2 separate regions of the Homo sapiens genome follow, and region 1 is linked to region 2. The links come from fine-mapping of genetic effects on gene expression. A gene starts in region 2. The other region holds a variant in brackets. All regions are shown on one strand. Distances are from middle to middle.

Region 1 (2,918 bases), 82 kb before region 2:
ATGTGGGCCTTTTCCCTTTGCACGGTTAATTCTCCCACCAGTATTGTTCAGTATTCACCAGTATTTTACTGGTTGTCTTTTCCAACTGTTAACTCTCCCTTACCTTTTTTTGGGAGGGGGGTGGCGTGGAGGTGTTTGAATTTGGACTTGTCACTGGGCATGTTCAAGCAGAGGCTCTGTAACTACTCTGAGTAAAATGGAAGAGATTCTTAAACCGACAGGTTTAGAAAAGATGATGTCTGTGACCTGCATGACTCGGCATAATTACTTTGAGGTTCATTTATGCAGCTGTACTTTCCAAAAACAGGTTTCTGTTCATTTGGGCTAAGTACCTAGAAGGGCTATTCTTTAATAGATCTAAGCTGATTTTACCCAAATTCTCCCAGGTTTGAAACTTTAGAAAAGACCTCCCTGCCCGACCAAACAACTCAGAAGATAGCCAGTTTTCTTATATTGGTGTAGATAAGGGGAATGGAAGGAGGGAAGGACTATCTATGGTAAATATCTATACCATCTTGAAAGGAGTAATTATGATAAATGTACAGTTTACCAAATCCTAGAGGAATAGAGTTTTAAAGTAATATACTATGTTTTCATGAAGGTTTTTATAAAAAAGTTATTTAATAGAAAAATTATGTAAGTAGATTGAACTAGCCTAAGAACATTTACAGTACATATTTCTTGATATATTTATTGACAGCTGTGTAATTGTTACTATCTATACATAAAATATTGATGTTTAGCAGTTGCTTATGCCTGTAATCCCAGCATTTTGGGAGGCTGGGTGGGCAGATCGCTTGAGCTCTGGAGTTGAGACCAGCCTGGGCAACATGGTAAAACCTTGTCTCTACAAAAAATGCAAAAATTAGTTGTGCATGGTGGCATATGTTTGTAGTCCCAGCTACTCGGGAGGCTAAGGCAGGAGAATCACTTGAGCCCAGGAGGCAGAGGTTGTAGTGACCCGATATCGTGCCACCACACTCCAGCCTGGGCGACGGGAGTGAAACCTTGTCTCAAAAAAAAAAAACAAAAAAAAAAACAGCCGGGCGCGGTGGCTCACACCTGTAATCCCAGTACTTTGGGAGGCCAAGGCGGGTGGATCACGAGGTCAAGAGATTGAGACCATCCTGACCAACATGGTGAAACCCTGTCTCTACTAAAAATACAAAAATTAGCTGTGCGTGGTGGTACGCACCTGTAATCCCAGCTACTTGGGAGGCTGAGGCAGGAGAATCTCTTGAACCCGGGAAGTGGAGGTTGCAGTGAGCCGAGACTGCACCACTACCCTCCAGCCTGGATACAGGGTGAGACTCTGTCTCAAAAATAAAAAGTCATTTTGAATATATAGAGCATGTTCATGAGTATTGCTATAAAAAAATATCAGAGG[G/GT]TTTTTTTTTTTTTTTTAGTTTACTGATTTCAGATAGAAATCTTTAAAAAATTAATTTACACATTTCCTGGCTTCATAATCCAAGTACAACGATTTGGAACTTCCTCAGATGATGCAAGTTGATTATGACATTCATAACTTCATTGAATTGTAATAACCTGTTTTTGTCAAGGGTTACTGAAGTGCTGTAATAACTTTTTGGGCTCATGACTTTACATTAGCTTTCCTAATGCGCCAGCGTGCTTTTTATAATCTGTCAGTTTAACATACAAATCTGTCTGGTAGACCATCACTCCTACCATTTAAAGTACTTGAGCTTTGTAATAGTAAACAGCCCACGTGTATTTATATTATGATGGATCTAGGCACAGTCCTTTAATGTATTCAAAGTGGACTATGTTAAGCACAGTCCTAATGTATTCCACTTTGAATACATTATCATTTTTCATCCTTACAACCACCTTATCAGTGAGATATTAGCCTCATAATACAGATGAGGAAACCGGGGCTTAGAAAAGTTAAGCAATTTGATTGCTACTCTGACAGTAAGCTGCAGTGTTGGTATTTGCACCCAGGCTTCCTTGACTCCTCCAGTGCTCAGTCTTTTGGGGAATGCAGGTAGTAACTTGTTTGTACCCATGTTTTAGATAGTTGAGGTTGTCAGGCAGCCCAACCACTAGCTAAGTAGGGTGATCAAAATGTGGATGAGCTGTTAGCAAGCTATGAAAAAAAGCATTTTGTGATGTTTCCATAATTTGTTATCAGTATTTCAAGTGTGTATAGCTATTTTTAAAATTTGCTTCTTGTTTAAATTTTTTTAGGTATGTTATCTTTCGTGTTATTTTGGTACATTTTTTTCCTAGTTGGACAAAGGGAGGCTATCTTTTTTAAGAACAAGGAAGGAGTCCCCTTAATTAGAAAGGCTTGTTTATTCATTTTTCATAGACTAATGTGCTTAATATATTCCTTTTTTTTTTTTTTTTTTTTTTGAGACGGAGTCTCGCTCTGTCTGTCCCCAGGCTGGAGTGCAGAGGCACGATCTTGGCTCACTGCATCCCCCACCTCCCAGGTTCAAGTGATTTTCCTGCCTCAGCCTCCCAAGTAGCTGGGACTACAGGCACATGCCACCATGCCCAGCTAATTTTTGTACTTTTAGTAGAGATGGGGTTTCACCATGTTGACCAGAATGGTCTCGATCTCTTAACCTCGTGATCCGCCCGCCTTGGCCTCCCAAAGTGCTGGGATTACAGGTGTGAGCCACTGTGCCTGGCCAATATATTCTTATTATCTTTAATTTTTGTTTTCTTTTTCTTTTTTTTTTTATTTTGTTTGTTTGTGTATTTTGAGATGGAGTCTCACTCTGTTGCCCAGGCTGGAGTGCAGTGGTGCAACCTTGGCTCACTGCAACCTCCACCTCCCAGGTTCAAGCAATTCTCCTGCCTCAGCCTCCCGAGTAGCTGGGACTATAGGCACGTGCCAACATACCAGGCTAATTTTTGTATTTTTAATAGAGACGGGGTTTCACCACATT
Region 2 (2,918 bases):
TTCACATACGATTTCACACCTGATCCTCATTACAAACACGTGAATACGCAAAAGATTTCACACCTGATCCTCATTACAAACACGTGAATACGCATGTTATATCAGTTTTACAAATGAGGAAAGAACGTTCAGAGAAAAAAAGAGACAACCATTGAGTGTTAGAACTGAGAAAAAAAAAGTAAGTCTCCTGACCTCTGGTCAAATCTATTTACGCCCCAATAATACCACCTCCTTAATCAAAGTTGCACTTCTCTGTGCGACTGGTCTTTATTTCCTCCAGTGATTGTAAACTCCATGAAGAAAAGGACTGTTTTTCCTGACCACTGTATTCCCAGTGCCCAGTAAGGTGTTTTACAAGGAGGCAATATTTATTGAATGAATTAATGACGTTTCTGCTTTTCTCATTTTTAGTCGGTTAAATGTAATTTACTTTTTTAAAGCAACTGATGTGAAGAGCCAAAGTACGCCACCAAATTGGTAGGTTTTTAAAAGTTGAACTTTACTGCCAACATACTTCAAAAGAGAACGAGGGGGAAAGGCTCGGAGCCAAGGCCTGAGTTCTAGTCCTGACCCTGCCATGAACTGGCTGTGAGCCCTCACGTAAATTTTTTTAACTTCTCTGGGCCAGAGTTCTTATCTGTCAAAAGGGAAGAGTAGGGCTATAATCTTCACGATTCCGTGCACAGGTAGGGTTTTTGACATTAACTTGATGTGAGCCGGCTTCCTAACTCCTCACACCCTTCCTCCAGTCCCCTCTGCAACGGCCGACTTGGTGAGAGAGGTAACCACCGGGCCCTCTGGGTTCCCTATCCGCTTCCTAGGGGGGCCGACTCGACACCTAGGTGCAAGGTGGATCCCACGGGCCAGAACCGCCATCTTTCCCCATTGGCCTGACCCCAACCGCCACCCGCGGGCACTGGATGACGCGGACCTTACCTCTCCTCACAGTCTTTGCATTTCACCTGCAACGGGACTAGTTGGTGGAACAGCACTTGGCTCATGTTGGCTCGCTGCCTCGGCTGGTGTGCAGAAAAGCCCAACAGGCCCGGCCCTCGGGATTAGCCTGAGAGGTCCGGGTCCTGATAAAGTTTGAGTTTGGCGCTCGGCTTCTGCGGAGGAGGCGGGGAGGGAGAAACGAGGGGAAGGCGTAAGAGACTTGGCCCTCGCCAGCCACCATCGGATTCTTCCGGTTCTGCGGAGGATAAAGGGAAGACGGTTGTGGTAGTTCCGGGTATTAACCTGTGTGGCGCGGGGGCTGAGGCAGCCATGTTTGTTAAGGGAAGGAGACCCGAAGGAAGCTTCTAACTTTTCTTCTGGTTGCCGGATGCTGGACACCGGAAGCGAGCCCTAGAATTATGGCGACCTCCGCGACGTCGCCGCACGCGCCTGGTTTTCCAGCTGAGGGTAGATGCGGTTACTATGTGGAAAAGAAGAAACGGTTCTGCAGGATGGTGGTGGCCGCAGGGAAAAGATTTTGTGGTGAACACGCTGGAGCCGCGGAGGTGTGGTATCGCCCTACTCTCTCAAGAGTCGGAAATAAGTATCCTGGTCCTGTCGGTGCTGGAACCCGGCCCCTCCCCTCTTTGACAGCTTTCTGCTTGTGTCCCCTGGATTCTCCAGCTTTCACTTTAATAAACCCAGTTTTGCCCTCCTTGCGGAGCGATTATGAGTTCTAGTGATGAGAAATTTTTTATTTTTCTAAGTAAAGCGCCAGCAGTGACCCATTTATTTTGATCTATTTATCTCGATCTTAACTCATGGTAATGCTAGGTTTTAATTTTTACCCCAAGCTACCGCTCCGTCTTCCTGCTGGAAAGTGGTAGTTTAGAAAAAGTAGTGATTGAAGTCCCAAAGGTTTCACTAGTTGTGTTCTAATTGTTATTTCATGAAAGAGAAGCACTTCTCGTGAATGCGGTTGGAAGAAACTTTCTTTTAAAAATTTAGACTTGAGGCCCGGCGCGGTGGCTCACGCCTGTAATCCCAGCACTTTGGGAGGCCGAGGCGGGCGGATCACTTGAGGTCAGGAGCTCGAGACCAGCCTGGCCAACATGATGAAACCCTCTCTCTACTAAAAATAAGAAAATCAGCCGTGGCGCGAGCTACTAAAATTAAGAAAATCGTGGTGGTGCGAGCCTGTAACCCCAGCTACTCGGGAGGCTGAGGCAGGAGAATCGCTTGAACCCAGGAGGTGGAGGTGGCAATAATCCAAGATCACACCACTGCATTCCAGCCTGGGTGACAGCCAGACTGAATCTCAAAAAAGAAAAAAAAATTTTTTTCGACTTACAGTTTTTAAGAATGCAACTTTGCTGGAATGGGAAGGAAAGATTTTTAAATATATACGAATTGACCTTTTACAATTGAGAACAAAGCATACAATTTTGTTTGATAATTATGCATATAAATGTACTATCAAACACTTTATATTTGTATATATGTATATTACTTTAGGATATATATGAGATGGGAAAATAAAAACCAGAGGAGCAAAATGCTCATAGGAAGAGAGCATGTCCTTATAGTTCCACAGAACTATAAAGAATAAACCAAAGCGATCAGCATCAGATTTCATGCTTCTGAATGTTCAGTATTATTTGCATTATTTTATTTCTTAAGGAATTTATTCTTCTAGACAATATCCAGTGCAGATCAGTCCCCTGACCCCCTTCATCTGCCACTCTCCATCATAGTTGTAGTCTACTTCCTATTTTGTTTTGACTGGCATTTACCAAAAGTGAAGCATACTGAAACAAGGACATTCTTGTTTTGGAATATGGGAGACGTGATTTGTTGTGGGAACTCTGAATTATGCCCATAGTCTATTGACTGGTTTTGAGGGGACTGGCAAACATCCCTTGTTGAAGAATGAGAGTTATGATAGGAGAAGGATTTAGACTCCACCTTATCCAGATATATGG

Which allele goes with the higher level. Alleles are on the strand shown, and positions count from the first base shown. SD is a standard deviation of normalised expression in the study named.
As copies of G replace GT in region 1, the expression in monocytes after LPS of the gene that starts at base 1,117 in region 2 goes down (large effect, 2.2 SD a copy in Quach 2016).

Evidence for each region. PIP is the estimated chance that this variant, and not a neighbour inherited with it, causes the effect. A credible set is the group of variants that fine-mapping cannot tell apart.
Region 1: its variant is the best candidate, but not a certain one, in a credible set for the expression of SASS6 in monocytes after LPS (Quach 2016, PIP 0.65).

What each region holds. Positions count from the first base shown.
Region 1 is chr1:100,050,071-100,052,988 of GRCh38, forward strand. The region is part of intron 2 of SLC71A1 (solute carrier family 71 member 1); the gene reads left to right. Among named protein-coding and RNA genes, the nearest start is that of SLC71A1, 13 kb to the left of the region's middle. RefSeq lists enhancers at 127-216, 297-386. The variant G/GT (reference allele first, on the strand shown) is at 1,388.
Region 2 is chr1:100,131,814-100,134,731 of GRCh38, forward strand. It overlaps SASS6 (SAS-6 centriolar assembly protein), which reads right to left and starts at 1,117. Exons shown (of 17, transcript NM_194292.3): 1 at 937-1,117. The coding sequence starts at 1,001. It overlaps TRMT13 (tRNA methyltransferase 13), which reads left to right and starts at 1,350. Exons shown (of 11, transcript NM_019083.3): 1 at 1,350-1,502. The coding sequence starts at 1,356. RefSeq lists a silencer at 739-902 and enhancers at 898-1,500, 905-1,024, 1,035-1,564.